2 linked regions of the Homo sapiens genome follow. The protein of the gene in region 1 purifies or fractionates together with the protein of each later gene. This does not show direct contact. Each region holds a gene or a part of one and is shown in the gene's direction. Other genes may lie near its edges.

Region 1 (3,653 bases):
GCTGATGGTACTTCTTTTGAAAGAGTAAATGAAGAGAGGTCTGCCAATGATGCATCAGAGTACTGAGAGCTTTCTGAGGATCATAAGTGAAGCCATTGTTATATATTAGCATTGACTTAGCACTCATGGCTTGGTAATATGTGTGTAGGCTGCTTTTGTGCTAATGGTGTTTGTTGTCATTTTTATCACACATATTTATGAACAACCACAACTATGTACCTGGAACTGTATTATTTGAAGAAAGATATATCATAAGCAAGCCAGAAATAGTTCTTGTGCATAGAGCTTATAATCTAGCAGAAAGGGGGACATTTTACAAGTAATTCAGTGTGGCGATGTTGCAAAAGAGAAGATATCAGTGTTTTTGGACTAACAGGGACTGAACCAAGTTGAGTATTTGAGGAAGCCTTTGATGCTTTTTATTCAATGCTGAATTTTTTTTTTTTTTTTTTTTTGAGACAGGTTCTCACTCTGTCACCCAGGCTGGAGTGCAGTGGCACGATCTTGGCTCACTGCAACCTCTGCCTCCCTGCAACCTCCACCTCCTGGGTTCAAGCAGTTCTCCCACTTCAGCCTCCTGAGTAGCTGGGACTACAGGTGCACGCCACCACGCCTAGCTAATTTTTGTATTTTTAGTAGAGATAGGGTTTCACCATGTTGGCCAGGCTGGTCTTGAACTCCTAGCTTCAGGTGATCCACCTGCCTCGGCCTCCCAAAGTGCTGGAAATTTGTTTGTTTGTTTGTTTGTTTGTTTTTTGAGACGGAATCTGGTTCTGTTGCCCAGGCTAGAGAGCAGTGGAGCCATCTCAGCTCACTGCAGCCTCCTCCAGGGTTTTCAAGTGATTCTCCTGCCTCAGTCTCCAGAGTAGCTGGGACTATAGGCACACACCACCACGCCTGGCTAATTTTTGTATTTTAAGTAGAGACAGCGTTTCACCATGTTGGCCAGCCTGGTCTCGAACTCCTGACCTCAAGTGATCCATCCACCTCGGCCTCCCAAAGTGCTGGGATTACAGGCATGAGCCACCACACCTGGCCTCAAAGCTGATTTTTATCATTCAAGCCAAAATGATAAGTCAGATGGAGGAAAAATGCATGTGAGCCATGCTCTTTACTTCCTATGAACACACACTTCCATTACCACAGACTAAAACATTCTGCCATCTTAGACATTCCGATTCTTAAGGATTCCTAATTTAAGAGATTACTCTGTATTTAATTTTTATATTCTCAATACAGATTGCTTTTAATTTATTCCCAGAAAATGTATTAGTAAATAATTACATTTTAATCTTAATTTGAGGTTATTTTATTAATATAAATTAATAAATCATTTTAATTTTTTACAGCCTGTCAGAGTTGTTCAGTATAATATCAATACAGAAGAATTATATTCCTACCTAAAGGAATTCATCCACATACTATATTTCAGGTAAGATACATTTTGTTTTCTAGCTTTTATGATTAGATAGATTTTCCTAATGCCATAGTGATAATTGGTTGTGTTACAGCTGAGGCCAAAAAAAAAAAAAATGGACTTCTATTGCCATTTTTACATGCTTATTTTCAACCTTTTCAAAAATATATTTGAAGACTAGAAAACTGGCAGACATAAAGAGATACTGAAAATGAAATATTCATTAATGAAGTGAACTGATAATTAAATTATTCTACATTCATACAGTGAAATACCATGCAGCTCTTTAAAAAGAGTTCTGCATCTGTATGTAGTAGTACAGGAAGGTGTGTGGGATATATTGATAAGTGAAATAAGCAAGTTAAAGAACCACATCTATGGAATGAGTATTTCTGTTAAAACATACCCCCATACATCCATAAGAATGAAAAAAAATACAAACTTCTATCAGTGATAGTTCTGAGTAGTAGAGATATAAGGTTCTTGTACTTTGCAAGTTTTACGTGTCATAATATTTGGAGCTTTGTGAGCATATATTACTATTGTAACCTAAAAAAAAAGAAAATATCGCCAGGTGCTGTGGCTCACATCTGTAGTACCAGCTACTCAGGAGGTTGAGATCAGGGGATGGCTTGAACCCAGGAGGCTGAGGTTGCAGTGAGGTGAGATTGCCCCTCTGCACTCCAACTTGGGCAACAGAGCCAGATCCTGTCTCAAAAAAAAAAAAAAAATCTATATAATGGCTCAAGTTGGTAATCATAGTAGGCTATAATTTTAGGTTTCTGAGATAAGTAAGTTAATGAATTTCCTAGCACACTGCACGGTACATAGTAAGAGGTCAGAAATGTTATCTTTCTGGGGTAATAAAATGAAGATGTCTTTTTGTGATAAAATATCTTAAGCTAAGGTAGTACAGTTTCACTGTTCTTAAATTGTATGACTTAACAAAATGAATAAAAACTTTTACTTTTAAAACCAAAACTTTCACTTTTCAGGCATCTATTGGTGAATCCCAGAGACCGCCGAGTTGTGATTATCGAATCGGTATTATGTCCTTCTCACTTCAGAGAGACACTCACTCGTGTTCTTTTCAAATATTTTGAGGTACCTGTCTTTATATCAAATAAGTAAATTGCTTTTGAAATAAAAAGAGAAGCAATAAAATTCTTACCAATTTTTAGGGAATCTTTCTTCTCTTTTTTTTTGTTGGTAGGTACTCAAAACTTAAACTAATAAAAGCCCTTATTTTGTCTCATATTGTGTATGGCACACAGTGTAGTTGGGGAACCAGATGACAGAAGATTCTTCAAACTGGCCATTTATTTTCTTCCTTTGTGTGGTTATTTCATGCTTTAGCATTTCATCCAACACTTACATAATTGGATATTTCTTTTTATTACTGTTTATTTATTTTAATATAGGTTTTTCTATTTGGGGACTTTTTTTTATTCAGAATTAAAAGGTATATTCTGTGCTGTGGACTTTGCAATGTATTTCTTCCAGATCTTTCTAGCTTCCATTGTTTAGTTGTACTGTTCTGAATTTTGTCATTTTAGGCTTCAAATTCCTTTAAAATGGAATATTCAGTGCCTCCCTTAGAGTAAGTTGGTAATGCCAGGAATGAGACTTACCTCATAATATAAGTAATATTACCTGTAGCTTTGATTTTATAGGAATCAGGATTATTTTATCACCAAGAATATGTTTTAAGATTAGTATATTTCATAGTAGACCAGAATCTTAATTATTCAAATTTTTAAAAATCTTTGCCTTAAAATTTAGGTTTTATCAGCAAGGGAAAATGTAAGATTATATGTATTAAGTGAATAAGAAATTAAGCACATATAAATGTATTTTCATACATTTACTGAATTCAAAACATACCTAATACCAAAAATCACAATGTCTTTATGAGGTAAAGGCACTTAATATTTCTAAGTTATATTTTTGTAAAGCAGGTACAGGGAATCAGGTTGCATAGCCTCCAGTACCTACTGATGTCATGAGTCCAGGAATTTCATTTGTAGTAAGGAGAACATAAAGCAAAACAAGAAGTCGTGTCAGCTGTTATCTGAATAAAGTAGAATATTCTCTGTATTTATAATTAGAGTTTGTGTTAATATCTTCTATATGACTAGAATACCTACTTTATTTAGATAAGGGGAATACAGCCATTATTTTGTCTGCCATTCGATTATGATGGACTGTCATATTTTGATTGAATATCTAGTATTTG
Region 2 (3,653 bases), on another chromosome or scaffold:
AGATCTTTTGGAGTTGTTTATTTAACTTAGGGGATGAGACTAGGTAATATTTTGCATACCCAGATTCAAGGAAGTAAACAGGCAGAATGAAAGATAAAGCACTATTAAAATATGGTGGGTCTTTTCTTTTTTGTGTCTTTACACAGTTGCTGGTTATATTTATTCTTTCGTTTGTATAGATGGTGTCACCTCTGATATGTCTGAGTTAGAAATCTTCAGACTTTTTTTTTATGCCATTAGTGTAAGTCTCTTTCATGTACAAATGTTGAGAATGAGCCTCAGGTATCAGTTGAGTAATGGGACCCTGTATAGGTCCCATTATTTTTAGGATCAGGGAAGTTTTTAAAATCAGTTTTAAACCCTTTTTACAGTGTACCTCTTTGATAAGGAGATTGTGCTTTGGCTGTCATTTGATTTTTTTTTTTTTTTTTTTTTTTTTTTGAGACAGAGTTTTGCTCTCGTTGCCCAGGCTGGAGTACAGTGGTGCGATCTCAGCTCACTGCAACCTCCGCCTCCCGGGTTCAAGCAATTCTCCTGCCTCAGCCTCCCAAGTAGCTGGGATTACAGGCATGCGCCACTACACCCGGCTGATTTTGTATTTTTTTTTTAATAGACTTGGGGTTTTTCCATGTTGGTCAGGCTGGTCTGGAATTCCCAACCTTGGATGATCCGCCCGCCTTGGCCTCCCAAAGTGCGGGGATTACAGGCGTGAGCCACCGCACCTGGCCGGCTGTCATTTGAATTTTTATTATTTTATTTTATTTTATTTTTTTGAGGCAGGGTCTCGCTGTGTCGCCCAGGCTGGAGTGCAGTGGTGCGATCTCGGCTCACTGCAACCTCCGCCCCTCCAGGTTTAAGCAATTCTCTGCCTCAGCCTCCGGAGTAGCTGGGATTACAGGCACGTGCCACCACGCCCGGCTAATTTTTTGTATTTTTAGTAGAGATGGGGTTTCACCATCTTGCCCAGGCTGGTCTTGAGCTCCTGACCTCGTGATCCACCCGCCTCGGCCTCCCAAAGTGCTGGGATTACAGGCGTGAGCCACCGTGCCTGGCTTGAATTTTTTTTTTTTTTTGAGACGGAGTTTTGCTCTGTCGCCCAGGCTGGAGTGCAGTGGCGCCATCTCGGCTCACTGCAAGCTCCACCTCCCGGGTTCACGCCATTCTCCTGCCTCACTCAGCCTCCTGAGTAACTGGAACTACAGGCGCCCTCCACCACGCCGGGCTAATTTTTTTTTATATTTTTAGTAGAGGCTGGGTTTCACCGTGTTAGCCGGGATGGGCTCGATCTCCTGACCTCGTGATCCGCCCGCCTCAGCCTCCCAAAGTGCTGGGATTACAGGCGTAAGCCACTGCCCTCCGCCCGAATTTTTAAAAATTAATTTTATTATTATTATTTTTGAGACGGAGTCTTGCTGTGTCACCAGGCTGGAGTGCAGTGGCACAACCTTGGCTCACTGCAATCTCTGCCTCCCGGGTTCAAGTGATTCTGCCGCCTCAGCCTCCCAAATATCTGGGATTACAGGCACCCGCCACCATGCCCGGCTAATTTTTTTTTTTTTTAATTTCTAGTAGAAACGGGGTTTCACCATGTCGGCCAGGATCATCTCGATCTCCTGACCTCGTGATCCGCCCGCCTTGGCCTCCCAAAGTGCTGGGATTACAGGTGTGAGCCACGGTGCCCTGCCTAAAAATTAATTTTTTTTTTTTTTAATAACTGAGTCTTGCTCTGTCGCCAGGCTGGAGTGCAGTGGCACGATCTCAGCTCACTACAGCCTCTGCCTCCCGTGTTCAAGCAATTCTCCTGCCTCAGCCTCCTGATTAGCTGGGACTACAGGCACACGCCACCACGTCGGCTAATTTTTTTTTTCTTTTTCTTTTTCTTTTTTTTTTTTTGTATTTTAGTAGAGACGAGGTTTCACCAGGTTGCCCAGGCTTGTCTTGAACTCCTGAGCTCAGGCAATATCTGCCTGCCTCAGCCTCCCAAAGTGCTAGGATTACAGGTGTGAGCCACGGTGCCAGGCCAAAAATTAAATTTTTTAAACAGCAAATGTATATTCATTATAGAAAAGGAGAAAACACAAACACCAAGAAGAAAATTCTTGGTTGGGCCTTAGGTTGGGCCCAACCCTTAGGTTGGGACCAGCGGCTCATGCCTGCAATCCCAGCACTTTTGGAGGCCGAGGTGGGCGGATCACCTGAGGTCAGCAGTTCGAGACCAGCCTGGCCAACATGGCAAAACCCTGTATCTACTAAAAATACAAAAATTAGCCGGGCATGGTGGTGGGCACCTGTAATTCTAGCTACTTAGGAGGCTGAGGCAGGAGAACTGCTTGAACCTGGGAGGCAGAGGTTGCAGTGAGCCGAGATCGTGCCACTGCACTCCAGCCTGAGTGACAAAGCAAGACTCCCTTTGGGGGGTGGGGGAAAAGATGCAGGAAAAAAAAAAGCTGACATTTATTTTGTGCCAATTCTGTTTGCCAGGCATTACAGTAGATGCTTTACAGACATTATCTTTTTTTTTTTTTTTTTTTTGATGCAGAGTCTGGCTCTGTCGCCCAGGCTGGAGTCCTGGAGTGCAGTGGCACGATCTCGGTTCACTGCAGGCTCCATCTCTTGAGTTCACGCCATTCTCCTGCCTCAGCCTCCCAAGTAGCTGGGACTACAGGTGCCCGCCACTACGCCCGGCTAATTTTTTGTATTTTTTAGTAGAGACGGGGTTTCACTGTTAGCCAGGATGGTCTCGATCTCCTGACCTCGTGATCCTCCTGCCTTGGCCTCCCAGAGTGCTGGGATTACAGGCGTGAGCCACCGTTCCCGGCCAGACATTATCTTTTAAGCTCATGATAACTGCTGATGAGTAAGGAAACTTCAGGCTCAGAGAGTTTAAGTATTTTGCCTGGTATTACTTAGCAAGTAATGAAAGCTAGAAAGGATGGTAGCCTGACTTCTAGCATTGTGATAGGGTGTTCACATACATAACCTTATTTCATCCATACAACAGTGTTCTACAGGTATTACTCTGGTTTACCGACATGTAGCAGGCTCACAGAGCATCATTATCTGTGGTTGGTACTTGAAGTCTCAGATAGGATAGTTGATTTTCAGATCCCTTTGGGTGCTACTTTTGGAAATGCTACTAGTTGCATGTTTTTCACGTTGATAGTTTGTAGCCTTCAAGGGAGGTAATTTTGGATTTGTCAGAAGGGTAGTGGTCAGTAGTTGAAACAGCTGTTTGAAATACTGAGGGCTTCATTTGCTAAAGAAAGGTGAAGATGAATTACTGAAAGAGATCGCTTTTATCTTTTTTCTCTTCTTAAAAAGCTACTTTCCAACTTTATTCCATGCCTTAATAATTTAAAAGAAATTAAAACCTCTAAATAAATCTTTAATACTCATGACAGGGTGTTCTTTCATTCTTTATTCAAGACACATTTTTGTGGAACAGGTACTATATGCCAGGTCTTGAACCAGATGCTGGGAATAGAGAAATGGGATACTCAGTCCCCATTATCAAGTTACTTACAGTCTAGTGGGGAAGACAGAAAACCAACACTACAGGATTGTGATACTGTAAGTGCAGTATACTAATAAAATATATTAAGTGCTGTGATGCCAGTATCCAGGTGTTGCTGTGGAGAAACAAGGACCGCTAC

Evidence for each region. Proteins that work in one complex are often made in the same cells at the same time.
Region 2: the proteins of ACTR10 (region 1) and LMNB1 fractionate together in Homo sapiens (co-fractionation; one large-scale study listed by BioGRID). This does not show direct contact.

The regions. Positions count from the first base shown.
Region 1 is NC_000014.9:58,206,587-58,210,239, forward strand, and holds part of ACTR10 (actin-related protein 10), read left to right. Parts: intron 1-1,349; coding exon 1,350-1,432; intron 1,433-2,412; coding exon 2,413-2,521; intron 2,522-3,653. UniProt on the Homo sapiens protein: Part of the dynactin complex that activates the molecular motor dynein for ultra-processive transport along microtubules.
Region 2 is NC_000005.10:126,783,601-126,787,253, forward strand, and holds part of LMNB1 (lamin-B1), read left to right. Parts: intron 1-3,653. UniProt on the Homo sapiens protein: Lamins are intermediate filament proteins that assemble into a filamentous meshwork, and which constitute the major components of the nuclear lamina, a fibrous layer on the nucleoplasmic side of the inner nuclear membrane.